Linked DNA regions of Homo sapiens. The protein of the gene in region 1 interacts with the protein of each later gene in a pairwise test. Each region holds a gene or a part of one and is shown in the gene's direction. Other genes may lie near its edges.

Region 1 (7,026 bases):
AAGATTTGTAATTGAGCTTAGTGCAAAATTTAAGAACATATTTTAAATATTACTAACTCTTACACACACACACACACACATATATATACCATACGTAATTTCATTAGTAAGTCACTTGTTTTAAAGGACTTATTAATGTACTACAAAAAATTTAAATCACTTCTTTTTCTTTAAAACTGTTACAGGGGAAAATATTTTAATAGTTTACTTCCACATATCCTTAACCTTAAATGAAAGTGTAGTTCCAAAGGGAAATCAGTCGAGAGAAATTATTTTGTTTTTGAGGGAAGATTTTATTTTTAGTTATTGCCATCATGGAATTACTGTAAAAAGAATAAGTTATAATTCACCTGTGATGACCTTAAGATCAAAAGTATTTTTAATGTCTATAGTAATTTTGAACAAGGCATGTAGAATCTTCTATCTCCTTTGGCATAATAATATTTTGAGATTGCATAATCTGTTTAATATCATACCACAATAAAGTATAAAGTTCTGCACCAGCTTCCCCAATCCATTAGAGCTTAATTTTTTTTTTTTTAATGCATGGCAATAAAATCTAGACAGCCATAAGGGAGGATATTCAGATGTTTTCAATAGCTTTGAAACAGACAAGAAGAAGAAGGCAAAAAAAAAAAAAAAAAAAAGAGTAGCTGTCCCAATAAGCGCGTCTATTGCGTAAGAAAAAGCTCTCCCATAATGGACATGGCAAGATTTAAACAAAAGACGCACATAATAAAAATGTAAATGAGTTTGCTTTACTAAAACTATAACTTTAAAGTCTTTTGTTGTAAGTTATCCTGAAACCTTCTTACAAGGTAATCACTGTTTGCATAGAGATTTAAACCAAAGTCTTCAATAGCATTAAACGCCTGCACAGACCCCGTGTGACAAGCATGCAAAGCCATGTTAATGTTCAGAATATGAATTGCCTCTGGGTGGCTCCTCCACCAAGCAGAAAACCAACTGTGTGGATATCCGTGTGCCTGATGGACTCCATGCGGCTCCCAGCCTGAAAACGTCACCACTTTGACATGTGATGTGCTCCTCATGACACTGGCAGCACTGACACTGGGAAATGCCACAAAGGCAACAAGCCCCCCTCCTTAGCCATGCACTCTGCCACCCCCTGGCGCTGCCCGTCCTGGTCCCCCCAGCCTGCCTAGTTACAGGCGGACAGCACTTCAGACACACACAGAGGGAAGTGTGGGTGGAGGGGCCCCAGCTGCCTCCCCGGACACAGCCTCCATAATGAATTGACCTGAATGATGAGGGCACACAAACAGTATGATATGCATTATTCCTGTCAATAAAATGTCCCCATGTGTTGAGGTCTTTGTACAGAATGTACTGGAGCCTTTCTTCCAGCAAGCTCTATTTAGGCTCCTTCCTTTTTACTATTCTTATAAGTGTGTAATAGAATTCAGAAAATTATATGATAGCTTTTCTGTATCTGTATTGTCCTTGTCTTGCATATTTAAATCCTTGGCTCCCTGCTTAGGAATATGGCATTCTCCATCTTTTAGGAATCTTTTGCCAAAGAAACCAGCTCTCCAAAATCAAACCTAGAAAAGGAAAATTTGGAGTACAAAGTGGAAAATGAGAGGCTGCTTCAGATCATTTCAGAGCTTGAAGAAGAAATCCAGATCAATCTAAAAGAAAATTCAGGATTAGGTAACATTTTGAAATCACTTTTGAGAAAAATCTGTATATTGGTCACTTTGTAAAGCTCATAACTATGTTTGTCTTTTCCAAACATACATTCGTTTGGTTATTTACATTTGAAAGATGAATTTCATAGCCATCTTTGCTTTTTATTAAAGATAGCACTTCTTGCTTGGGACAGAGGATGTGTTTGTAGTTGTACCCCTGAGCCATGTCACGTTAATTCAGGGTGTTGTTTCAAGACAGACATTGGCCTTTGCAAAAATTTGCTAATCAATGCTCCATTTCACTTAGAAATATTATAGCCAGATAGAAACTTTTGCTGATTTGTTTCAGATGCTTAACTGATTATCTAAACTTGATAACATTTAAAAACTTAAGAATACATATAGGGATATGCTTTGTAGGGAAAACAGAGTTAGCCCTTCAGGAAAATATGCTAGTACTTACTAGTTACTTCAATTTTTGATGCAAAGCTTAAATACACAATTTCATTTGTATACTTAATACCTCTTTTCTTTCATACCACAAACATTGGTGAAAGTTGTGTTTAAATCACCGAAGTTGTTAGAACATGTGGAAAAGAGAAAAAAATAATCACCAAGGTGAGATTGCTCTAACGTATTTTTTCATTTAACTGTGATCCGAGTGATTATGTTAATTACATGATGTTGTCCTTAATCTGCAGTATTCAAAGCAATGAGCAGGCAATACAATGAATTATAGCAAAATATCAGTAAAATGAGATATATTATATTAATATTATCCCTTGGATGTAAAATTCTACCATGCCAGTATAGTCTCATTCTCTTCTGCTGTGGCATAGCAAGGCTTTTTAGTTTTGGGTCGTTCTTATTAAGTCATAAACTGCCACCTGCTAAAGCTCTTTGTATTGGCTGTGACCAACAGCAAAAATGTCCGTCGCTAGTATTGATGAAAAGCTTTCAGCCCTCAGCCACACTTGGATCTTGAACTTACTTCTTAATCCCTATCTGACCGGCCATCTGAACAGCAGGAAGAAGGCTGCGAATGTCAAGGGCAGTTGTGAAGGTCACAGTCCTGCTAGGCCTTGTGTCCACTATGCCTGCTAGTGCCCCACAGCCTGCCCTGAAGCAGGCCGTTTAAATACAGGGGCATAAGCATGTAATTTCATGGTTGGCCTCTCTCTCCTTTTGTTTACAGAAGATGAACTTATAAGTATGAAAGAGATGGCAGAAAAGGATCACAAAACTATTCAAAAGGTACTATAACGTTTTACGTTGATAAATGACTCTTTTAAATGGAACTATAGGCGCAATTGGCCAAATAACACTGTGTCCAGAGTGTCTTATGACATAGAGGAAAGTTGATTCACATATTTAATCTCTCCCCACTATTTGGGAAGGGTGACTAGAAGCAAATAAGGACTCCACCTTGAAAACTCACGGATGTATAGATACTTCTTTTGTTTGGGATCACTGACCATCTGCCTTGTTGATTTTAAGGCACCGAATAGTTACATGACACAGAGAAGTCTGAAGATGAGCTTGCAGTTAAGGAAAAAGTTATATTAAAAATGAACAGTCTTATTTTCAGATCAGATGTTAGTTGATGTTCATGAATGAGCTGGGCTTATGTTATCTGGTAAATATTTAGAGCAGGGAATTCTTTTGGTAGAATAAAAATCAAGATTTCCAAGGTGGGGCGCAGTGGTTCACACCTGTAATCCTAGCAGCTTTGCAGGCCAAGGTTGGAGAATCTTCTGAGCTCAGAAGTTCAAGGCCAGACTGGAAAACATAGTGAGACCCCTTCTTTATAAAAATTAAAAAAATTAGCCGAGTGTGGTGGCACATATCTGTAGTCCCAGCTACTCGGGATGCTGAAGTAGGAGGATTGTTTAAGCTCAGAAGTTCGGGGCTGCAGTGAACTAGAATTGCACCACTGCACTTCAGCCTAGACAACAGAGTGAGACCCTGTCTGAAACACACATACACACACACCACCAACCCCCACAACAACAAGATTTCTTAGCTCATTGAATTGAATGCAGTAGGATCTCAGCAATTCCTGCTCTCCCTGCACACGTGGGGCTTCCCTACTCTGTTCTCATTTATCCGCAAACTTCCCTATTGTGGCTCTCAGTTACCATTCTGTTATGGTCTATCTTCCCTGCCCTACTGGAGGCTCCATGAGGGTGGAAACTGCGCTATCTGGTCTCTTAGTGGGGAGCACGATGCCTGAGGCACTGAAAAATACTCCAAGAGATGAATAGAATAGGAATGCATTTACAGTTCATACAGTTTACAGATAAACAAGCAGATTCACATCCCCAAGTTATTCCAAATAAACATAAATATCTTCCAGTAACTGAACCGAGTATCCATTTTTAAGTTAAAATGGATTAAAATCAGACAAAATTAAGAATTCAGTTTCACAGTTGCACTAGCCACATTTGAAGAGCTTAGCCACCACATGTGCCTAAGTTTAGGTTCAGATTTCAGCCAGGCCTGATATTGCCATTCAAGATATTCTTTTTTTAATTTTTAAAAATGTTTTGTCTTTTATTTCTTCTAAAAAAATGGGATACATGTGCAGAATGTGCAGGTTTGTTACATAGGTATATATGTGCCATGGTGGTTTGTTGCACCTATTGACCCATCCTCTAAGTTCTCTCTGCTCACCCCCCAGCCCCCCAACAGGCCCTGGTGTGTGTTGTTCCCCAATCTGTGTCCATGTATTCTCAATGTTCAACTCCTACTTATGAGTGAGAACATGCGGTGTTTGGTTTTCTGTTCCTGTGTTAGTTTGCTGAGGATGATGGCTTCCAGCTTCATCCATATCCCTGCAAAGGACATGATCTCATTCCTTTTTATGGCTGCATAGTATTCCATGGTGTATATGTACCACATTTTCTTTATCCAGTCTATCACTGATGGGCATTTGGGTTGGTTTCATGTCTTTGCTATTGTAAATAATGCTGCAGTAAACATATGTGTGCATGTCTCTTTATAGTAAAATGATTTACATTCCTTTGAGTATATACACATTGATGGGATTGCTGGTTCAAATGGTATTTCTGGTTCTAGATCCTTGAGGAATACTCCATACTGTCTTCCACAATGGTTGAACTAATTTGCATTCCCACTAACGTGTAAAAGTGTTCCTATTTCTCTGCAGCCTCACCAGCATCTATTGTTTCCTGACTTTTTAATAATCGCCATTCTGACTGGTGTGACATGGTATCTCATTGTGGTTTTGATTTGCATTTCTCTGATGATCAGTGATGTTGAGCTTTTTTTCACGTTTGTTGGCCACGTAAATGTCTTCTTTTGAGAAGTGTCTGTTCATATCCTTTGCCCACTTTTTGATGGGGTTGTTTGTTTTTTTCTTGTAAATTTGATTAAGTTCCTTGTAGATTCTGGATATTAGACCTTTGTCAGATGGGTAGATTGCAAAGATTTTCTCATTCTGTAGGTTGCCTGTTCACTCTGATGATAGTTTCTTTTGTGCAGAAGCTCTTTAGTTTAATCAGATCCCATTCGTCAATTTTGGCTTTTGTTGCAATTGCTTTTGGTGTTTTTGTCATGAAGTGTTTGCCCACACCTATGTCCTGAATGGTATTGCCTAGGTTTTCTCCTAGGTTTTTATGGTTTTGGGTTTTACATTTAAGTCTTTAATTCATCTTGAGTTAATTTTTGTATAAGGTGTAAGGAAAGGGTCCAGTTTCAGTTTTCTGCATATGGCTAGCCAGTTTTCCCAGCACCATTTACTGGATAGGAGATCCTTTCCCCATTGCTTGTTTTTGTCAGGTTTGTTGAAGATCAGATGGTTGTAGATGTGTGGTGTTATTTCTGAGGTCTCTGTTCTGCTCCATTGGTCTATATGTCTGTTTTGGTACCAGTACCATGCTGTTTTGGTTACTGTAACCTTGTAGTATAGTTTGAAGTTAGGTAGTGTGATGCCTCCAACTTTGTTCTTTTTGCTTAGGATTGTCTTGGCTGTACAGGGTCTTCTTTGATTCCATATGAAATTTAAAATAGTTTTTACTAATTCTGTGAAGAATGTCAATGGTAGTTTGATGGAAATAGCATTGAATCTATAAATTACTTTGGGCAATATGGCCATTTTCATGATATTGATTCTTCCTATCCATAAGGATGGAATGTTTTTTCATTTGTTTGTGTCCTCTCTTATTTCCTCATTCAAGATATTCTCAGATTTTAGATAAAACTACTTTTAAGAAGTATTTTTCAAAGAAATGGTTACCCTGATTGGTCAGAGGTGGGAGATGTTTCCCTGATAACTGAATCCCTCACAGATTTTCACAAGGGGAGTTCATTTTCTTAGGCTTCACCCTATTTGCAGTGACAATAATGTAAATTCCATTTAACCTTCTTGGCATCAACCTCTAAGGTCAGAAATGAAATCTCAGCCTTCTAGTTTCACTTAATAACCAACCAGGGAACCATCACCAGTTTTTCCATTCCTCCCTCCTTTCCTCCCTCCTTTCTCCCTCCTTTCCTCCCTCCCTCCTTTCCTCCCTCCCTCCCTCCTTTCCTTCCTCCCTCCCTCCTTCCCTCCTTCCCACCCTTCCCTCCCTTCCTTCCCTTCCCTCCCTTCCTTCCCTTCCCACCCTTCCTTCCCTCCCTCCCCTCCCTCCCTTCCTTCTTCCCTCCCTTCCTTCTTTGCTTCCCTTCCCTTCCCTTCCCCTCCCCTCACCTCCCCTCCCTCCCCTCCCCTCCCCTCCCCTCCCCTTCCCTTCTATGTCTCAGTCTCACTCTGTCCCTAAGGCTAGAGTACAGTGGTACAATAATATCTCACTTGCAGCCTCAAACATCCAGCCTCAAGCGATCCTCCCATCTCAGCTCCCAGAGTAGCTGGGACTAAACAGGAGTACCACCACACTTGGCTAATTTTTTATTTTTTTATTTTTGCAGAAACAGGGTCTCCCTATATTGCCCAGGCTGGTCTCAAACTCCTGGCCTCAAGTGATGCTCCCACCTCGTCCTCCCAAAGTGTTAGGATTACAGGTGTGAGTCACTGCACTGGGCCTGGTTCTTTATTGAAAATGTTTCTCAAGCTCTTCAGTCTGTATACCACTGGTAGAAATGAGTAGCATGTACTTCTGACTCTCTATAAGGAGTACAATAACAAATTAAAGCAAAAAAACAAAATCTCACTGGTAAGCCACCAGTTGATGGCTGGCTATATCTGTGAGTTTAAATATATCAGTTAAGTGCTGCCTCAGCTTTCTAAATCTGCACTGTGCCATGGTGGCCCTTGGCCACATGTGGCTATTGAGCACTTGAAATGTGGCCAGTGCAAGTGAGGAACTAAGTTTTGATAATTTAATTTCCAATTATTTAAATTCAAATTTAAAAA
Region 2 (7,026 bases), on another chromosome or scaffold:
CAGGTGTCATTGCTGGGTCCCCTGCACCTCCAGAGTTGATCCGAGCCATCATCAACAAGATAAATATGAAGGACCTGGTGGTGAGTGGTGACTGCGGCCCGGGCTGTGGGCAGGCCAGGCCTGGGATGACAGCAGATGGACAGACATGGGGATGAGTCCAGGCCAGATGTTCAAAGGAGACCCTCTCAGCCAGCCCTCCTTCCAGAAAGCAGATGTGAGAAAAGATAGTCTGACCTCATCAGCACCTGGTGGGTGAAGGAGATAGGTGGCAGGGGAGTAAATATAATACATACATACATTTATATTTATAGAAATCTCAGGAAGAAATTGCAGCATGGGAAGATGGACAGCAAAGCACCGATGTCCTGCTAGAACGTCCTGGCAGGTGGGGGCTGGCAGAGTTGGGGCATGGGCTTTAAAACCCTTTCTGGAAGCAAGGGGTGGGGCAAGGATCTGATGATTGTTTCCACGTGGCAGGGAAAGAGGAACAGAGGAAGGATGATCCTGGGAGGGTGGCCATCCTGATGACCAACCTGTTGTGGTTCTGATTGACTTGGGGGGGGGGTCTCAGCAACAGCTTCTCCAAGAGGAGCTGGAGGGTGGGGAAGGCATGAAGGCTGGGGAGAGGCTCAGCCTTCCTTCTCCCCAGGACACTGCTGGGTGGAGCTGGGTTGGTAGTGGAGTGCCCGAGGCCCCCTGCCAGGACGTGTCTAGGTGTAGGCAGCTCTGTGCATCAGCAGAGGCTGTGGGGAGAAGGTATGGGTGGAGGTGAGAAGGTCAGTAGTCTCTCCGGTGGAAGGCAGAGGCCAGTCACCAGGACTGGCTGGGTCAGAACCTGCAAAGAGGCAAAGATCGATGTCAGTACTCCAACAACACAGATGATGCTTGAAGAAAATGGTGGAAGTCCTGGGCAGGACCTTTTCCTCCCTTCAACAGGGGACCCAGTCGTCCCCTCCTCTCTCTGTAAAAATGGAGGGTCTGCCTGACCCTCCAGGGCCAGGGGGTATCCTGGAAGATACCAGCTCACTTGCTGGAATCACCAAAGAGGGACATAGGGGACCTGTTTACCTGGCCCCCACCTGTTTAATGGCGGCCAGCTTTCTTGGACCTCTTGGTGGGGAACTTGCAGCTGCGGAAGGCGTCCGTGTCACGGATGTGCTGGCCCTTGAACTTGGCAGGTGAGGCACAGGTGGCATCTGGGCGGGAGGCCTTGGCTTCCAGCCACCTGGAGAGACAGAAACTTGCTGGGGCTGGGGAAGAAGGTGGGAGTGCTGGGGGGAAGGGCAGTGAACTATGGGGCCAGGATTGACTTGGCCACAGGATAGTCTGAAGCTGTCATCTTCATTTTACAAATGGGGAAACTGAGGCTCCCAGGGTCCCATGCTTATTAGGTAGCAGATCTAGGATGCATGTCCAACATGTCTTAGTGCAGGGCTAATGTGCCTCTATCACATGAGGGTGGGCTCTGGGAGTGACATGGAAGTGTTCTTACCGCCGAAGGCCCCGGAGCTGGCAGGTACACTTCCAGGGGTTATTGGTAAGGGCGAGGGTCTCCAGGCTGTCGAAGGGGAAGTTGGAGGGTAGCTGGTTCAAGCGGTTGTTCTCCAAATGGACGTGTTTCAGCGTGGTTACACCCAGGAAGGCACCATCTGAGAACTGGGGAGCAAGGTGGGAGCAAGGTGGGAGCAAGGTGGTCATGAGTGAATGAGTAAGCACCCGAGTGCCAGAGGGGCAGGATCCTTCCCTGAACCTGAGCCATAGCACTTTGAGGAGTTTCCCAGTTTTCAAAGCAGTATGACCAAGTGATCTCAGATAATCCAATCTACACAACCCCCTTTGAGACAGATGGTGTTATTTTCTTTTTTTTTTTTTTTTCCTTTTTTTTTTTTTGAGATGGAGTCTCACTGTGTTGCCCAGGCTGGAGCACAGTGGCACGATCTCAGCTCACTGCAAGCTCCGCCTCCCGGGTTCACGCCATTCTCCGGCCTCAGCCTCCTGAGTAGCTGGGACTACAAGTGCCCGCCACCATGCCCGGCTAATTTTTTTGTATTTTTTTAGTAGAGACGCAGTTTCACCATGTTAGCCAGGATGGTCTCGATCTCCTGACCTCGTGATCTACCCGCCTCAGCCTCCCAAAGTGCTGGGATTACAGGCGTGAGCCACCACGCCCAGCCAGGTGGTGTTATTTTCAATATGCAAATGGGGAAACGGAAAAAGCGCAGTCCTTTGCCCTGGGTCACAGCAGTGGGTAAACAGTAGCCACAGGACCACACCCAGCTCCTCTTCCCCTGGCACCACAATCCCTGCACAAACACTGGGACTGTGGGGCTGCCAGAGTTTGGCCCCAGCAATCCAAACTGGTACACGGTGAACTTGGTCTGTGCTTGGTGGAGTGGGCAGTGGGCCCAGGCTCCCCACAGTCCCAGGGTCCCAGGACTTCCCTCAGCTCTGTCCTCACTGCTCCCCCACTGCCAGCCAGACGCTATTTGTGAAGCCACCTTGGTGGAGCCTTTGGCCAGGTTGGACGGCTCCAGAGGAAATGTTCTATTGGTGCCCACACCTTTGCCCAGGCGCCACAATTCCTGTCTGGCCTCCCCTGCCCCAAACCAGCCCCTAATTCGCTGCTCTGCTGCCCACTGAAAGACCACTCTGGCACTGGTGGGCCACAGGGGACTCCAACTTCAGCTGGGGAGAGGCAGGGCTGAAGAAGGGCAGGCTTGAGCAGGCTCCTTCCACCCAGACAAAGGTTGGCTGCTGCCCAAGTGAGATTCTGCCCACATCTCCACACCCGCACCCTTTCCTGTGGCCCACATTGAGGTATGAAGGTCTCCAGTAACCAGACTCTCCTCTACCTTGTTGGTTCCCCACCCAAACCTCCTGGCTGAAGCCCCTGTACCAGGGTGATTTTTCCAGTCCCAGAGAAGGGATTCTGCTCTGATCCAAGGTAGCCCCACCTGGCCAGACACTGGGCACCCCAGGGGAGAAAGGAATGAGTGAGGATGCAGACAGGAGATGGGTCTAGTGACGGAGGAGGGCAAAGGGCAGTTAGCAGTCTGGAGACAGTGAGTCACGCCAGTCTTCTCTGTGGAGAGACACCTGGGGTCTTGGGCCAAGGATTGACAATAGTGGTCTTGCCTTTGCCCCTTCACGGAGCCCATGGGCACGATGCTTGCATCCTGGGGGAGCCCTTGGTCCCACGCCTACTGAGCTGCAATGGACTTGAGAATGCAGTGAATTGTGTCTGTGTGGATTGGGCAGGGCCATCCACCAGGGCCTCTATGGGGCATGGAGAATGTCTTCCTCAGGCATTTGCTTCCCCTCACTCCCCAGTCCCCCACTCCCCCTTAGCACACATGCACAGCCCCCACCAGGAACAGGGTCTCTTTGTGGGCCTGATCTGCCCAGCTCCTCTGGAAGGCTCCTCAATAAACAAACCTTCCTTTATGGGGTGGTAGGTTTACTGGAGACGGGAAAAACAGCAGAGGAGGGGTGGAAGGCCCAACAGGAAGAGGTGGCTGCTGCTCACAGTTGGGGGTTTGGAAGCACTGGAGATGGCCCTAGGGGGCCTTTTGTGGGGCCAGGGCAGTCCCACTCCTTTTATATGTAAGAATCCTAGGAGGGCAGTGGTCGAGACTGGCAGCAGACAGGGATTAGGGTAGGGATGTGACAAGGCGAGGAAGGGAGGTGGCAGAGCTGCTCACCTTGGAGATAGCCAGAGGGACAGGGAACCTGGGGACGGGGGATGGTGCCAGCTGTGGCCCTGGCTCCTGGGGCCTCCAGGAAGGGAAGAAGGAACCAGGGCAGAGCCCACAGCCAGGAGCTCACCTTCTCCAGGTTGGTGTTGTCCAGCCAGAGGGTCTCCAGGTATCTGCCAAAGGACTGGAAGGCATTGTCCGGGATGCTTTTCAGGGGGTTGTGGGACAGCTTCAGCTCCTCCACCACCCGTAGCTTGCTCAGGGCAGCTGAGGGGTAGCTGGACAGCTGGTTCCTGTCCACGTGGAATTTGGCGAGGTTCTCCACGTCGTCCAGGGCCCCGGGCTGCAGGGAGCTCAACGCGTTTTCCGACAGGTAGAGCCAGCGCAGGTCCTTGGCTCCCTGGAAGGCGCCTGCGCGCAGCTCACGGATCTTGTTGTTGTTGAGCTGCAAGATGAAGAGGTTGACCAGCGGGGAGAGCAACCCCCGGGGCAGCTCAGTGACCTTGTTGTGGTCCAGGTAGAGGTAGGTCAGCTCGGTCAGGTCGTCGAAGGCACCTGCGCGCAGCACGCGGATGTCGTTATGGGACAGGTACAAGTAGATAAGTTGCTTGAGGCCGCGGAAGGCACCGGCGGCCACCTCGCGGATCTGGCAGTGCTGCAGGTGCAATGACACGAGGTTCGGCATGGCCCGGAACGAATTGGCAGCCAGCACCGGGAAGTTGTTGCGCTGTAGGTTGAGCAGCTTGGTCTTCTCTGACACCTTGGGGATCTTCTGCAGCCCCACCTTGTCGCAGATGACGTGCTGCAGGTCGCTGTGGCAGTGGCAGTTCTGGGGGCAGGCGGCCAGCGCCGGCAGCAGACCAGCCAGGAGGCCGAGGCTGAGCAAGAGCATTGGGCGGACCATGGCTGGGACGCCTGGGGCCGGGGCTGGGGGCAGCAGCGGCGGCGGGGCGCGGGCAGCGGCGAGTCCTAGGCGCTCGGGTCTGCCGCCCTCTTTATACGGTGGCCCTGACCGCAGCCGGCAGCCGAGCCAGCTCCTACGTGGAGCATCGAGGCCACTGGGCTTAACTCGCTCGCGCCCAGAGATGCGCCCCCGCCCTCCACGGGGAAGGGGGCGGGGCCGTTCCCCCAGCCGGCTACCGTGCATGAGGGGGTGGGACCGTGGCCCCCGAGCCCCGAGCCCTGAGCCCCGGCTGTAGCCCCCCGCTCTCCTATGGTGCTCCTCTGCCTACCGCCTTTCCCGGGGCTTTTCTGGGAAGGGGGAATAGTTATGTCTGGAGCCCCGAGTTTACATCGGAGAGAGGGAGGCGTTCCCTCAACTTATTTGTTTGCTCAGGTTTGAGCCTCCACGCCGCGCCATCCACACACGCTCGGCCGGGTGCCCTGGATGCGAGGCGGGAGGAAGCGGGGCCGGACAGCTGGATGCGTCTCCCTGCGGTGGGCCAGCTGCCTGCGCTTTAAAGGGGCGCTTGTGCGGCGCCTGCCGAGCGTGAGAGCCGCCCCGGCGTCGGTCTCCCACTTCAGACTCGACGCGCCGAAGCTGGCCCTGGGTAGACCCGAGCTCCTTCCCCACCCTCGGGCGCGCCCCCACCCCTCTCTTCCAACCCCGCTTGCGTTTCTGTCGCCGGCGCCCTCATCCCCTTTTTCCACCGCTGAAGGCTAAGCAGAGAAGTGGGAAGTGGGGGAGAGTGGCCCACAGGAATGGCAAACACACCTGGAAACCACAGGCCACAAGCACAGTCGCACCATCCCCCCTCCTTCATCGCCCCGAAATATCTCCATCCCTCATCCCCAACCCTAGTGGTCAGGACCCGCCCCTGAGGGGTCTCAGGGTGGCGGCTGAGTGGCGCCGAGGTGTACTTGGCAGATGCCACATTCGGGCGGTGGCCCCAGGACTGTGAGGAGGGGTGCGGGAGGGGGTGGGGCAGGTCGAGGGACCAGCCCTGGACGGCTCTGGCTGCCAGACCCTAAGTTCTGTGGGCAGTCCCGCCCCAGCCCGCCAGATTTCTGTGTGCCCACTTGCCAGCCACGATGTCCGGATTCCTGTGGAAAGGGGAGGGTGAGCAGGCAGGGTCACAGCTCTGGCCTCAGGGTGAGCTCCAAGCTGCCTGGCACAGGATATTGTCTGTGATGAGGGGTGGAAGGAGAAACCAGAACCCACATTGAACCAAACCCCAGCCGTGCCAGAGCCAGAGCAGCTGATATGGGGGAAGCTTGGTGCAGGGAGGAGGATGGATGAGATCTGGTATCCGTTGATTAAAGGGGACCTAGGATACGGGGTAACTAGCCTCTCTTCCCTTACCCAGTACCCTCGTGTTGGGGCCTGGTTTCCAGGGCCTGCCCTTTTCCCAAACCTCTCTGCCCCTTGCCTCTAGGATAGGAGGGTCATACTTGGCCTAGACCATTCCTTGATGGTATTTAGGCTTCTCCAAGGCTGGCTTCTGGTTTTTCTGTTGCTCAGGCTTTCCAACCACTGGAAATGGGGGAGGTGGGGTGGGGGTACCACTGGTTTTTAAAATCACTGCTTAGGTTGTTTTTTTATTTTGATGGAAATAAATTCACGGGAAACTCTCCAGAGCTTGGGGGACGCCTGCCCCAAGGCCAGGCACTTGTTCAGGGTTTGCAGAATGCGGGGGTGGGGTTGTGTCTGTGCCACTCCTAGCTGGGCCAAGGCAGGCTGGCTTTCTCATCAAGTTTATGGGGCCTTCAGCTTGGAAGGGAGGAGCCGGGGATGTGGCCTGAAATCAGGAAGGTGGGGTTAAGGCAGCCAGGGGATGGGGGGAGAAGTGTGGGGTGTTGGTAATACCGGAGCCACAGGCACAGACAGGTGGCTGCTCCAGGGAAACGGGGCACTGAGAGAGCTCCAGCTGGAAGAGAATGGTGTCCCTGCTCTCAATTTTCTTTCAGATCTGGGGCCCTGCAGAGATCTAGTCTGCTCACTCCCAGCACCTCTGCCTCCTGACCCCAGGCCCCTACCAATGATGTCTCTGTTTCCACCATTCGGCTGCCCTCCACTTTCCCTTTTCTTTTATGAATTCCTTCCCATTTCCTCAGATAGCTCACCTGATCCCTCTGCACGTGCTGAGCCCTCTTCAAACACCCTTTCTGGACCCTCTAGGTTGCTTATGGAACCACAGAGAACAGTCCCGTGACATTCGCGCACTTCCCTGAGGACACTGTGGAGCAGAAGGCAGAAAGCGTGGGCAGAATTATGCCTCACACGGAGGTGAGCCCCTGACCAAGACTCCAAAGTCCCACCTCCCGTCACCCAGCTGGGGTGCACCCAGCTGGGACATCGGTTGCTTTCAGTGAGAGAGTCAAATGGCTCACT
Region 3 (7,026 bases), on another chromosome or scaffold:
GGTCGTAACTGTCCCCCAACCCTGCAAGCAACCCCATCAGATAGAAAATGGGGTTGGAAAGATTTAACTAACAACCCTTAAAGGACTATGAGCATTGTTATTCTGGGATGGAATACCTCTTCTCTGTTCACAGTTAGCTTTGGTGAGAACAATCAAAATATTTGATAAAACATATGGCTCAGGAATTTGACAGTTTTTCTTTCTACAGAAACACAACTCTTTAATATTTACTGCTTAGTCATTTCCTATGTACAAAATGATCTTAATTAAAATAGAATTCCAATTAAACCAAGATTTTAAAAAAGTAGCCTTTAAGAATATATTTATTTATGGCTTTTTAAAATCTTTATCAATTGCTACTAATTCTTTCTTAGATTGTCAGTTTATTCTGAGTACTTCAATACTTTGTAAATCTTCCCAGGTCATGTTTGTGATAGAAGCTTGTATGGTAAACACACACACACACATACACACACACCATCTTTTTTTGTTGTCTCATTTTATACTTCCATAGTGATGAGATATCATGAACCATTTCAATTGTAATAATGGGCCTTCTCAGATATGACAAGACCTTAAATGTATTTTTCCTTCTAATCCAGGGAACTGGACTTTTTTTCTGTTTTTCATTTGTGTGTGTGTGTGTGTGTGTGTGTGTGTGTGTTTTCTAAAACACCAGAAGCTACTTTGTCTTCTTGTTAGCTGTAAGAAAGCCACCAAAGAAGTAGGATACAGTATATATCTGGCATTATTATCCTTGGTGTGCTCTACCAATCAAGTTGAAATTTACCTAAGCCCCAAAGATATCTCCATGGTTACCCTGCCAGTGCTGGGCCTCTTTGGCTTTAGGCTGATTTAGCATAAAATGAAAGATCTCTGGCGTTGCTAACTAGGTAGTTTTTCAGATTCTAGCTGTAGGTTTCATTTCTTTTTGAGTATTTTAGAATATAGCAACTGGACACTCTTTTATATAAAGACTGAGATTTGGCTTCTTTCCAATTATTCTGGGATCATCTCACAATGGTTATTGACAAAAAAGTACAGAACTATTCCATGAAAAGGCATCTTGCTTCTGGTTGTATCCGTCCTCAATATTACAATGTTCTGTGGCACACAATGGCAAATTCTTGGATTTAAGAGCAGAAAGGGTGTTAAAAGTCATCTAGTGCGTTAATGCCACTTTAGAGATGAATAAATAGAAAGGAATCAGGTTTACTTAGCTTTAAATGTTTTCACTAATAACTTTGTTCGTTCATTCATTCATTCATTCATTCATTCATTCATTCATTCATGGAACATGGAGAGCCCCTGCCCTGTGTGGATTCTGGAGCTACAAAGTATAAGCACAGCCCTAGCACTTGTGGACTCCCAGTCCATTGGAAGAGGAAGACTGACAAATATCCATTATACCGAGGGAAACGTTATATCATAAAGGCACATTCAAAACACTCTGAGGCCACACCTTTGATTGTAGATGAAGAGTTGACAGAGGAAGCAATAAACATTTCCTCATAAAAAATGAGTATCGGGCAGTTTAGGGAGAGAAGTCATCCTGGGCAAAACAAACAGAAGTCAGGAAAGAGCACAGTCACTTTGGAAAATGCTTAGTGTGTCAGTGAGACTGGCACATAGGACTTTACAGCGAGGAGTGGTAAGGAAAGGCTGAGTTCTCATGGCGCGGCAGCATTATTGCGGACAGCTCAGACAGCTAGGTATTCAGTGAGGACAAAAGGCGGGAGCTCCGTGAGTTGCTGTTGTCCTGAAATTAGTTCCAAGCTGGTTGATAAATAGCCACCGATCTGAAGCCCCTTCCAGTGTCCTTTTGTACCTCTAGACCTCCTCAGACCCAGTGATACAGCAATTAAAGTGTTTACACTTTGCAGGAAGCCTTTAGGATCCCCCCAGCACTAAGCCCAGTTGGATGGTGCTGATAATTATTATTATTGTTTTTTTGAGCACTTCTCCTCTTGTATGCCACAGTACAGAATTTGAACTTTATCCTATAGGGTGGGGCTTGGAAATTCAAATGCATCCAGGGGTCGGGCAGGCTACATAGAAATGAGTGAAGCGAGTGGATTGTAAACAACAGGGAGAGGTGAAGATTATATAGAGTTGGAAACATTCAAATTAATTTTTAAAAAACGCTATATCAACAAACATAAATGAGTAGTGATTTTGACAGCACCAGTGCTCAAACTTTGCAGTTTAAGTAACAGGGAATCATAATGGCTTTTTTTCTTTAAAACTAGGAGAATGATCAAAATTCATTTTTTACAAAATTTGCCATTTTGATGAACTGTCAATTTTTGTAAAAAATGAATTTTTTCATTTTCGTTTTGATGAACAGAGATTATAGAAACCAAGGGGATATGAGGCCAAGAATATGAGCTGTACTAATTTGAAGATTTGGACAAGAAGATGCTGGCTCAAATTCAGAGATTTTGGGTTGCATATGAAAACAAAGTTTTCTACCAAACATCACATATGCTCACTCAAAAGTGGGAGTTGAACAGTGAGAACACATGGACACAGGAAGGGGAACATCACACACCGGGGCCTGTGGGGGTGTGGGGGGCAAGGGGAGGGAGAGCATTAGGACAAATACCTAATGCATGTGGGGCTTAAAACCTAGATCCAGATTGATGGGTGCAGCAAATCACCATGGCACATGTATACCTATGTAACAAACCTGCACGTCTGCACATGTATCCCAGAACTGAAATAAAAAAAATTAAAAAATTCAGAACAACAACAACAAAAAACTCAAAGTTTTTTTGTGTGTAATAGAATGATGGAAGAATTATTAAGGAAAACATGTCATTTCTGGCTTAAAAAGTTTAAGGTACCAAAAAGATGGCCGTGGGAGCTAAAGCCACTGGAATCTCAGAGAGAACCTTGTAAATCTGTGACGCACTGAAGCTTAGTAACTTACACAAAATATTTGCAGAGAAAAAAAAAACCCGAAAAACTTTGAGTGGCGAAATGGGATGTAACAAATGGCAAAAGGATCTTTACTGTTGTTACTATGCAGGGAACTTATGTGATAACATTGTTTAACATCTTTTTAACAGTTCTGGATAGAATTTATCCATCAACTTAACCAATTTACTGAGTACATAATATATGCTAGGTGTTGTTTTTTGCATGATTTTTAATAGGATTTGTTATTGAGAATTCACTATGTGCTCAGCACACTTCTAGGCAATGGGGATAAAATAGAGAACTAAACAGACAATCCCTGCCATCCAGGGAGCCTCCATTCTAGAGCAGGAGACAGGTGTAAACCTCATATAAAATCAGGTTATGGTGAGCAAACAGAATGAATTGAGTCTGGGTAAGAAGAGCATATGAAGCGAACTAGGTATGTAGTATGTGAGGGAACTAGGGTGTGGGGAATGAGATAACTGTACAAAATATGATGAAAGAGAATCTTTGGAGACCAAAAGCTAACGGAGTTTGGAATGGAAGAAGGTAGTGTTGAAGAGAGAAATTCACAATCCCCCATGTTGTGAGTCTAGAGTGATGAACGCTTGTAGCAAAGTGATACACTAGGTTTGGATGAGCTGAATTTGAGATTTTAGTGAGACATCCAAGTCTATCAGTATTTCTCAAACTTCCGTGGGTGTCAGACTCACCTGGAGTACTTGCCAAAAATCCCAAGGTTCAGACTAGGCCCTTTTCCTTCAACCAGCCTGGGCCTTTGTGTTCTTTATTAGCTCACTAGGTGTTTCTGACACACCAGAGTTTGAGAATCATTGGCTTTGACAGCCACAGATACAAGCCTGGAAAGAAAAATTGAGCAAAGGCTGGAGATGTATATTTTGGAGTTTCAAAAAGGTGTTAATTGAAATGTAGGGATGGGCCTACTCTTGCAGCTGGTGAATATAACAGGGAAGGGAAGCCATAGGACAAGTTTTGGTTGTATACATGTAGGTGGTGGGAAGACAAGGAGGAGCCTGAAAGAGCGACACATGAATTATTCAGCATAGGGGGGAAATGTGGAGAACTCAGTTCCCCTGTAACTGAAATGTGGGCTGTATGGAGGCAAAGCCCTCAGGATTACCTTATCCCTGGCATTGTGCCAGCATTTAATAGATAATCAATATTTGTTTATTGAATAAGTCAATGCATCCATGAATGGCTAATAAAAAATTTTTAGAATGTAAGTAGTCATATCACATGCAGTGGCTGAGGTCAAGAGACTAAGGGATAGCTAGTAGATTTAGTTAAAAGGAAGTTATTGCTATACAAGATATTGGGTAATTAAGTTTAAGCAGTGTGTTAGGCCCTCTAGTCATTTGTAACGTTCATCTTGAGCTGTTGATGAACACTGTAATAGCAATAAGATATATACACACATAATATACACACATATGTGTATGTATACATTGTATGCACATATACATGTAAAAGTATAAATATTTAGCTCTGGGGTCTTCATAGTGTCCTGTGGTTCTGTTGATATCCTGGAGCTGCTTCCTTCAGGCTGTAAATCTTGTGGGATGAAGTGTGATTTAGGAGTCTGAAAGATTGTGGAGAGCTATCTATCTTCGGGAGGTTGGAACATAGACAAAAGCAATGAGATTCCAGGGACATGTCTTCAGTAAGCTAGATAATCCATTTGCCACCCTCAGTTTTTCAGCGATTGCTCCCCAAGAATAGATATGATTTCTAGAGATTGCATAAAAATATAAAATCCTATTTTAAGATTTGTTTAAAGCTTTTTAATTCCAGACACATACTTCCTTTGCAAGTATAAACTTTAGTGTCATAAAGCAGAGATGCTTATTAGTCAGCTCTTTGGGATCTGCAGGTTTGTAGATGAAACATCTGACCTTTTTTGCGTTTTGAAATGTCATGCCCAATTGGATCTTAATGAAGATTCATTTATCCTTTTCACACTGTTAAGGATGGTCTATGGGGATAGACTTCTCTCAGTCCACGTGAACAGAACCCATTACTGCTAATGGAAGTTTTCCACATGGCTATGGAGGTGAATAGGCATTGAAATAATCTACATCTAGACTTTCACAGTCATTTTTATGTAACTATTTTAAGATTTTCCTGATGATCCCTTTTTGTGCCCAAATGCTGTTTGACATCGTCTGTAGGTATCTGGTGATGGGTCTGAGGTTGTAACTTTAACAGGTGTAAGTATTTCTTTCCTCTGTTTCAGCTGGAAGTTTTGAGAGTGAAATATTCACAGCCATTAAGAGACCTCCAAATTAATTTCTCAACATGCTTATTCTATAGTTCACATTCAATCCAGAGCACTGAAGGAACTGAACAACTGGACACTGTAGACATCAGATAGCTGGCCATGGTGTTGGCCATGGCGTCTCAGGATGTTCAGAACTTCTTCCAGCCTTTCTCTTCCTGGATATCTCGGGTTTATGAAGCTCTCCAGCAAGCAGGAGATATGTTATCTGCTTCGCTGGTTAACATAAGCAAACAAGACTCTAAATTGAGTGACAAACTAGATCAGGACTTAGATAATATTCAGATTCAGGAAACGTACTTTGAAGATGAAGAACAAGACAATGATTGGAGTCAAGAGGATGCAAATTCCTTGTTTCTTGAAGTGGATCATTTCTCATGTTGTAATAGTGATTTGCAGGACTCTGCCCAAAATTCAAGCCCAAGCCTTAGCCAACATGCAAAGGACTCATGTTCCACAATGTCCCAGTGGCCCAATTGGGCCAGTGATGACCGCAAGTTACCACATGTGCTTTCTTCTATTGCGGAGGAAGAGCATCACCTTGAAAAGCAAAGAAGTGGCCTTCAACATGGCTTTGACAGCCAGCTCCCTGGTACTTTAGAAACTGTTAATGGAAAAAAGCAAGGTAAGCTAGCCAGTCATCATTTTCTCTGCGTTCCTCCAAAGAGCATTTCTACTTATTTTATTTTGACTTGTTTTTAGTTATCATGTGGATTTTATTTTTCTCTCTCTTATACCTTCCCACATACTGGCTTCTGATTGAGAGATATAATCCTTAGGAATATTTTCAATATATAAAGCTTTGGAGGATCCACGTTTGGGAGTTCCATATTTCAAAACAATAGTTCTGAGCAAGTGAAATGGTGAAAAACGAGTCTGTGGATTCTGTTTGAGAAGCCCCTTGTGCACATGTCATGCTTTTAAAAATATCTTGCAAAATGTTCTTTTTTTCTTCTAGGTTAGGAATTTCTAGATGTTACTATATTATTCAGTGTGAAATCCTGTGCAAAAAGCCGTACTTATCGCAGAATTTTTAGTTGATAACACTCCAAGAACACTTCTCACAGTGTTTCACTGAGACGTGATGTGAGATGACAGTGGATAGGAAATCTCTGAAATAAGAATAGCTTGATTTTCTTTTAGCTCTGAATGGTAAGGACACATTTAATAAAAACTGCCTATAAAGATTTATGCTGTGAGAACTGAGCACATATTGGGCCTTCAATAAATGTATATTGAATATGATAAAAATGTAATTAACTCTCTAAAAGTAGCTGAGGTGTGTTCCAGCATGAATTTCTCATGCCTCTAATACTCTAACCTTGAAGTAAGGACATTCCACCTGGTTAAGGGACAGAGGTAAATGATATACACAGAAGGGATTTGGGTATGTGTGCATGGTGTGTAGTTGTAATGCACATATAAGTCACACAGATTGGTGAGTCATTTATGTGATCTAAAGACAAAGTTATTCAATGTCCCTCTTGCTGGAGAGAGCAGACTTTTCTGGAATACCTCATAGTCCCTTCATTCATTTTCCATGATTCCTATTAGCTTTGTCTTTTTAGGGAAAAGTTTTATCCAGATATATGAAGTCTTGGCATATAAAGAAACACAATTTCATATTCTTCTCATAATGCTCTCTTGATACTTTTATTCAAATTAAGGTAACATTGAAATGCTAGAATAAATTGGTGAAAATGAGGTAGGCTGATATTCTTTCTGAACCTGATAAGCTGTAGCTAATTGCAATTTTGAGTCTTTTAAATTGGCTATAGAAATATTCTAGAAATATCTGGGCCAGCAGT
Region 4 (7,026 bases), on another chromosome or scaffold:
TTATATGGATATAGACTGATCAGCTGGTAGACTGTGACTGACTGAAGCCTGGCTGCTGTGATTGGCTAAGACTTAGCTGTTTGTTATAAGGATATGTTGTTAGGTTGCAGTTTGCTACATAGGAACTCAAAGTACAGAGGCAGTCTCAGGCCAAATTTAGTTTAACTATATGTTAAGCTGCAGGTGACAGAATACCTCCATCTATAGAGGTTTAAACAAGGAAAGGGTTTATTTTTTCCTGTATAGGCAGCTGGATGTAGGCAGTGTAGGGTTTGTACAGTGGCTACAAGAGGCCAGGAGGGGTCTCAGCTCTGTCTCATTCTCTTCCTGTTCCATCATTCTTAGCCTGTGACTTCATTCACATGGTTGGTTGTCTCATGATCACAGGATGGCTGCTCCAGGTGCAGCACTACTTCTGTATTCCCGGATTCGATCTATATACCCAGGAAAGCCATCTGGGTTCTCTCCTTTAAAAAGCATTCCTGGAAGCCCCACCTGTCGACTTCCCCTTATGTATCAACCATGTGTATGTCACTTGACCAACCCACTTGTATGTTGTTTGACCAGCCCTGGCTGCAATGGAGAGTGGGAAATACAGTTTTTTCACCAAGTGCATGGCTGTCCAAATGAAATGAGACTTCCATTAATAAGGAAGAAAGGAAAGATGGAGATCAGGAAGCTGGGGGATCAGGGAACTTATTACATTGAGAGCCCTTGGAGTGAATTCTCTTGCAAATATGTCCCTGGAATTGAGAATCCCCACAACGTACTTTATCTGTTCTTTCTTTATCCATGAGTTTGGGTTTTCAGATGTTGGATTTCCTATATGGGGGGCATGTGAGTTCATCATCTTCCATAATCAATGTTGTATCAACTGGATTTTCTCTCTTCTTCTCACCAGCCTGGAGGAGAACCATCTCCAGGATGAAGGTGTATGTTCTCTCGCAGAAGGACTGAAGAAAAATTCAAGTTTGAAAATCCTGAAGTAAGGAACCCATAAGCAGGAAACAGGACAATAATTGCTGGCCTTTGGAAGGGGCATTTCTGAATAAGATCTGGGCCGCTCTCCGCTGGGCTAACTCATGTGAGGTGGCCTGGTAGAACAGCTTGCCTTGGTCTAGGTGGACAAGGATTCCAGTGCAAGTTGTTTATCTGGGAGGTGGTCCCAGTAAATGCTGATAGGAGAGTGGTGAAGTGAGATGGGGAAGTGAAGGTAACCAATAAAGGGGAGTTATCAAGCCAGTTATCAATGAGGGAAATTGGAGCTCAGTACTCTGGGGCACTCCTGGAGCCAGTGCAGAACACACATGGTCACCTACCCAACCAATGGGCAAGAAAGCCATGGCATTTATCCACCAACCCTCTGTCCTTCCTATGTTGATGTGCGCTCATGGGGCACTGATTCTCCAGCACTTCCAGCTCACCCTCACCCAGCTGAACATGCTTCTGGGGTCAGGAGAATGGCCTCAGGCAGAGAGTGGAAGGTCTTCTCTGCAAGCAGTGGCTGGGGAGGTGATGTGATGGGGAGTACTGTGGCCTCCTCCAGTGGCTGACTCAGTGGCTTGGGACTTGTGCCACAAAGAGATGGACAGCTCAGGTGAACATGAACCCACCTAGTGACCATCATGGGTTTGTCAGGGTGCTCTCTGAGGCTGATGCCAAAATTCTTATTTCAAGTAGACCTCAGGAACCCCATCAGATGGCTCCTTTTGCTGGAGGAAAGTGGCATCTGCCTAGGCAAATGTGGTCCTAGGAAAACGCTTGCCTTTAGAGACAGACAGACAGACAGCTGCCTCTGTGAGTGCCAGCTTTGCTGCCAGGCTGCTACCCACTCTGGCGACACTCATTTGTGTTGCTTTCACAAGCTAGGAAGTTTCCAAATATTTGGAGAAAACACTTCCACTAATTATTTGGGTGGAAATGGGCTGGGAAGTTGGGGTGAAGCCCGGATGTGTCTGAGCCAGATGCCAGCTTTGCACTGAGGGTCGGCCTTTGGGAATACCAAGCCCATTATCAACCAGGTGTGGATATGGCAGGTTTGTCTTCCCTCCTTGTCACAGCCTTACTCCACTTGACTCCCATGGATGCCAGGCAATGAGGCTGGGGTTGGTCCCATGCCACCCTGTCATCAGCCTTATTTTTCAGCATCCTAAACTATATCATCCCCCACAAAAATTGAACTTCTGATATATCTTTTATAAAAAAGAGAAATGCCTACATCTTTCTTTTCCAGGCTTAGTTTCTGCCAAGAGTTGGTTGAGAGCCCAGGCTTGCTGGGTGCAGTGGCTCACACCTGTAATCCCAGCACTTTGGGAGGCTGAGGCGGGTGGATCACCTGAAGTGGGGAGTTCCATACCAGCCTGACCAACATGGAGAAACCCCATCTCTACTAAAAATACAAAATTAGCCGGGCGTGGTGGCATACACCTGTAATCCCATCTACTCAGGAAGCTGAGGCAGGAGAATCACTTGAACCTGGGAGGTGGAGGTTGCCATGAGCCAAGATCACACCATTGCACCCTAGACTGGACAAGAGAGAAACTTCCATCTCAAAAAAAAAAAAAAAAAGGATGAGAAAAATAATAATTTAAAAAAAAGAGTCCAGGCTCTGGAACCAGACAGCCTGGGTCTTACCCCTGCTCCACCATTACCAGCCAGTTCTTCTTGGATGAGTGCCTCAGTTGCCTCAAGTGTAAATGGAGATAATGGCTGGACCTTCATTATAGGCCATGAGCATTCACTGAGAGAATGTAGCTAACAAAAGTGAGTTGTAGGTTGGAGCAAAAGTAATTGTGGTTTCAGACCATGAACTTTAAATTATTATAACTAGGCTAAAATACATCTTTATTAATCAAAATAGGAACCATTAAAATCAACACATTTTTGCCAATAAGAAATAAGTTTGTTTATTCCTGTAGCATAAAAATTCATGCTTCGGGATTCAACAAACTCTTGGAAAGCATTTTCTGCATCCTCCTGGTTGTGGAAGCATTTTTCCTGCAGAAAGTTGTCAAGATTCTTGAAGAAATGGTAGTCAGTTGGCTAGAGGTCAGGTAAATATGGCGGATGAGGCAAAACTTCATAGTCCAATTCATTCAACTTTTGAAGCTTTGGTTGTGTGACATGCAGTCGGGTGTTGTCGTGGAGAATTGGACCCTTTCTGTTGACGAATGCCGGCTGCAGGTGTTGCAGTTTTCAGTGCATCTCATTGACTTGCCGAGCATACTTCTCATATGTAATGGTTTCGCAGGGATTCAGAAAGCTGTAGGGGATCAGACTAGCAGCAGACCACCAGTGACCATGACCTTTTTTTTTTGGTGCGAATTTGCCTTTGGGAAGTGCTTTGGAGCTTCTTCTCGGTCCAACCACTGAGCTAGTCATTGCCAGTTGTATAAAATCCACTTTTCATCGCACGTCACAATCAGATCAAGAAATGGTTCGCTGTTGTTGTGTAGAATAAGAGAAGATGACACTTCAAAATGACGATTTTCTTGGTTTTCACTCAGCTCATGAGGCACACACTTATCGAGGTTTTTCACCTTTCCAATTTGCTTCAAATGCTGAATGACCATGGAATGGTCGATGTTGAGTTCTCAAGTAGTTGTAAGAAAATCAGCTTTGATGATTGCTCTCAATTGGTCATTGTCAGCTTCTGATGGCCTGCCAGTACACTCCTCATCTTCAAGGCTCTTATCTCCTTCGCAAAACTTCTTGAACCACCACTGCACTATACGTTAGTTAGCAGTTCCTGGGCCAAATGCATTGCTGATGTTGTGAGTTGTCTCCGCTGCTTTACAACCCATTTTGAATTCAAATAAGAAAATTGCTTGAATTTGCTTTTTGTCTAACATCATTTTCATAGTCTAAAATAAATATAAAATAAACAGAAAGTATTAAGTCATTAGCAAAAAATCATAAAGTGAGAATTGTGCATTAAAATGATGTATAGCATAACCACATTTATTTAAGAATGTATTCCAATATCAAATGGCAAATTTCAACAATGCAAAAACTGCAATTACTTTTGCACCAATCTAATAGAAGTTCAATAAATACTGGCAATTACAATTGGCATTGCCTTAGGGTCAACTTGTAAGACATTCCTGAAATTGTGGGAAAGGGGGAGGACCTGGAGTGGACATTATTGGAAGGCAAAGCTGTAACCAAAAGAGCAACCTGGGAAACACATGACTCCTCTGTTGCTGTCCCTGGCCCTATCCTGTCTCCCCTCCCTGTTGTCAGCTACCTCATATGTTCTCTAATCTCTGTCTCTGTGCCCTCAAAGACCCCCCTGAAAATAGAAATATTACTGCTCATTGGTTATTTTCTATCAATTAAGTACTGTATTAGTCCGTTTTCATGCTGATGATAAAGATATACCCAAGACTGGGCACTTTATGAAAGAAAGAGTTTTATTGAACTTACAGTTCCACGTGGCTGGGGAGGTCTCACAATCATGGCTGAAGGTGAAAGGCACATCTCACATGGCAGCAGACAGGAGAAGAGGGCTTGTTCAGGGAAACTCCCCTTTTTAAAACCATCAGATATCATGAAACTTATTTACTGTAATGAGAACAGGATGGGATTCAATTACCTTCCACTGGGTCGCTCCCACAACACGTGGGAATTCAAGAGATTTGGGTGGGGACACAGCCAAACCATATCAAGTACTGTGCAAGTGTTTTAGGCATGCAGAGAGTGGTGGGTCTTCCCAGCAAGCAGAGTGTGGGGAGGTAATGGGGGACTGGTGGCTGACTTAATGGCCCAGGACCCATGCCACAAGGAGATGGATGGTGGATGTGAATAGGAGCCTGCTTACACCCATCACAATTTAGATTCTTATGCTCGATGGCACGGGTACTCTTTTAGGCCCATTTTACCAATGAGGAGATTGGGACTAATTTGCTCGAGATCAAAAAAGAAGTGGTGTAGGTGGGATTTAAACCCAGGATGTCTAGCACTAAAATGCAGGTACTTAACCACTATCCTAAGGGAGTGGCTACTTAATTTGATAAACTCATCTAGTGAATGGAAGAGAGACGGTTACATTTCACTGATGGTACTGAGCCTTTGTTGATGAGCTCATTGGGAATCTCAGACATGAGCAGGATGTGTCTAAGGGACAGGTGGGCTTCAGTAGACTGGCTAACTCCTGCAGTCTCTTTAACTGGACAGTTTCAAGAGGAAAACCAAGAATCCTTGAAGCTCACCATTGTATCTTCTTTTCCAGGTTGTCCAATAACTGCATCACCTACCTAGGGGCAGAAGCCCTCCTGCAGGCCCTTGAAAGGAATGACACCATCCTGGAAGTCTGGTAAGGCCCCTGGGCAGGCCTGTTTTAGCTCTCCGAACCTCAGTTTTTCTATCTGTAAAATGGGGTGACGGGAGAGAGGAATGGCAGAATTTTGAGGATCCCTTCTGATTCTGACATTCAGTGAGAATGATTCTGCATGTGAAGGATCTGATTCTCTGTCTAAGAAAGAAGTCTTTACCTCTTTAAGTAGGGAGCAATGATTTCATTTTTAAACCTTGACTATTTATTCAGCAACTTCTCTGCTCTATGAGATAGTGTAGGAATGGGGATGTGGTTGAAGAATGAAAAGAAAAGTCAGCTCCCGCCCTCCTAGAAATTGCATCTGCCTTCACAGGTCAAGGATATTGGATCAGACCTTCTGCGGTTCTGAATGGAGATTACACAGGTTAGGAGCAGGTTGCACAGTGTTTCCAATTCTCTATAATTAAAGCCATAGACTTTCATGTATTGAAAAAAGCAAGAATTGCATTCTTGACAGATTCTTTCATTGCCTTAAAAAGAATGACTAGCCTTGGGAGTCTGGGCAGCTGGGTCCAGTGTTGTAGACTTTCTCTCTGCTGAGCCACAGCTTCAAAGATTTGTCCTTCTTGTTTCCAGGGATCTATTTCTCAGACAATAAGTAAAGGCTTTCCCTGGCCTAATGTGCTGTAAGTGAATGCTACTATATATGTTCCAGGCACTGGGCTAGAGACTAATATTTAAAAGCCAGGAAATTTCCTATAGAAAATCTATATCTCAGGGTTTTCTCAAAAGAGCTGGGAACTCTGGATGCCCATTCATGATTCCAGTAGTTAACCAGAGTACAAGAAGGGCTGAGTCTTCTCAGATGGGCAAACCCACTCTGGCTGACTGCAGATCCACCAAGCCTATTGTCTTAGACCAGGACCCTTTGGCAACTCATTCCCATAAGCCTGTGACCCTTGCTTTAAATATGCAGGCCTTGTCTTCTCTCAAAAAGCACATCAAGGCTGCAGCGAATGCAGATATCAAATGATGAAGTTAAAAACAAAAGCTTTGCTGGGCGTGGCAGCTCACACCTGTAATCCTAGCACTTTGGGAGGCTGAGGCAGGAGGATCACTTTAGGCCAGAGGTTCAACACCAGACCTTGTCTCTCAAAAAATAAAAAATTCAGCTGGGTGCGGTGTAGTTCCTAGCCACTTGGGAGGCTGGGATGGAAGGATCCCTTGAACCCAGGAGTTCAAGGCTGCAGTGGGCCATGATTGCATCACTGCACAGGCGACAGAATTAGATCCCATCTCTTAAAAAAATAAAAAATTTAAAAGTGACTTCAAAAATCTATGCTGTGATGGAGAGATTTTTCCTTCTGTATGATTGTGATAGCTCTGTGGCCTATGACGTCATCAGGTTCTGGGCAAAGTGTAGGTTTTCTGTTTCTTTGTTTTTGAAACCATTGCACAGTCCTAAGAAACATCACATTCTGGGTCCTGGGCACCAGCCAACATGAGGTTGATATTTTAAGGGGTCTGATGTTATTTGCTGCCTGTTGATGGAACTTGGGAGGGCACCAGGGTTTGCTCATTGCATTCTTGACAGATTCTCTTATTGCCTTAAAAAGAATCACTGGCCTTGGGGAGTCTGTGGCTGGCTGGGTGCAGTGTTGTGGACTCTCTCTGCAGAGTCATGGAGCCTTGTTCAGAATGCTTCCTGAGCTGCCCTGGTTGGCCAAGGGTAAAAACAGCCCTGACTTCCC

Evidence for each region.
Region 2: the proteins of C10orf67 (region 1) and ACSF2 interact in binary tests that used the Homo sapiens proteins (3 or more experiments, as listed by UniProt).
Region 3: the proteins of C10orf67 (region 1) and SYT16 interact in binary tests that used the Homo sapiens proteins (3 or more experiments, as listed by UniProt).
Region 4: the proteins of C10orf67 (region 1) and NOD2 interact in binary tests that used the Homo sapiens proteins (3 or more experiments, as listed by UniProt).

Annotation. Positions count from the first base shown.
Region 1 is NC_000010.11:23,285,780-23,292,805, reverse strand, and holds part of C10orf67 (uncharacterized protein C10orf67, mitochondrial), read left to right. Parts: intron 1-1,526; coding exon 1,527-1,674; intron 1,675-2,209; exon of another isoform or gene 2,210-2,239; coding exon of another isoform or gene 2,240-2,270; intron 2,271-2,847; coding exon 2,848-2,906; intron 2,907-7,026.
Region 2 is NC_000017.11:50,464,215-50,471,240, forward strand, and holds part of ACSF2 (medium-chain acyl-CoA ligase ACSF2, mitochondrial isoform 2 precursor), read left to right. Parts: intron 1-3; coding exon 4-80; intron 81-281; exon of another isoform or gene 282-311; coding exon of another isoform or gene 312-385; exon of another isoform or gene 386-1,083; coding exon of another isoform or gene 1,084-1,225; intron 1,226-1,492; coding exon of another isoform or gene 1,493-1,656; intron 1,657-3,825; coding exon of another isoform or gene 3,826-4,599; exon of another isoform or gene 4,600-4,666; intron 4,667-6,813; coding exon 6,814-6,921; intron 6,922-7,026. Other genes in the region: CHAD (chondroadherin precursor), read right to left, coding at 1,084-1,225, 1,493-1,656, 3,826-4,599. UniProt on the Homo sapiens protein: Acyl-CoA synthases catalyze the initial reaction in fatty acid metabolism, by forming a thioester with CoA. Has some preference toward medium-chain substrates. Plays a role in adipocyte differentiation.
Region 3 is NC_000014.9:61,990,700-61,997,725, forward strand, and holds part of SYT16 (synaptotagmin-16), read left to right. Parts: intron 1-5,176; 5' UTR 5,177-5,320; coding exon 5,321-5,843; intron 5,844-7,026. UniProt on the Homo sapiens protein: May be involved in the trafficking and exocytosis of secretory vesicles in non-neuronal tissues. Is Ca(2+)-independent.
Region 4 is NC_000016.10:50,724,588-50,731,613, forward strand, and holds part of NOD2 (nucleotide-binding oligomerization domain-containing protein 2), read left to right. Parts: intron 1-901; coding exon 902-985; intron 986-2,827; exon of another isoform or gene 2,828-3,863; intron 3,864-4,425; exon of another isoform or gene 4,426-4,563; intron 4,564-5,230; coding exon 5,231-5,314; exon of another isoform or gene 5,315-5,366; intron 5,367-7,026. UniProt on the Homo sapiens protein: Pattern recognition receptor (PRR) that detects bacterial peptidoglycan fragments and other danger signals and plays an important role in gastrointestinal immunity.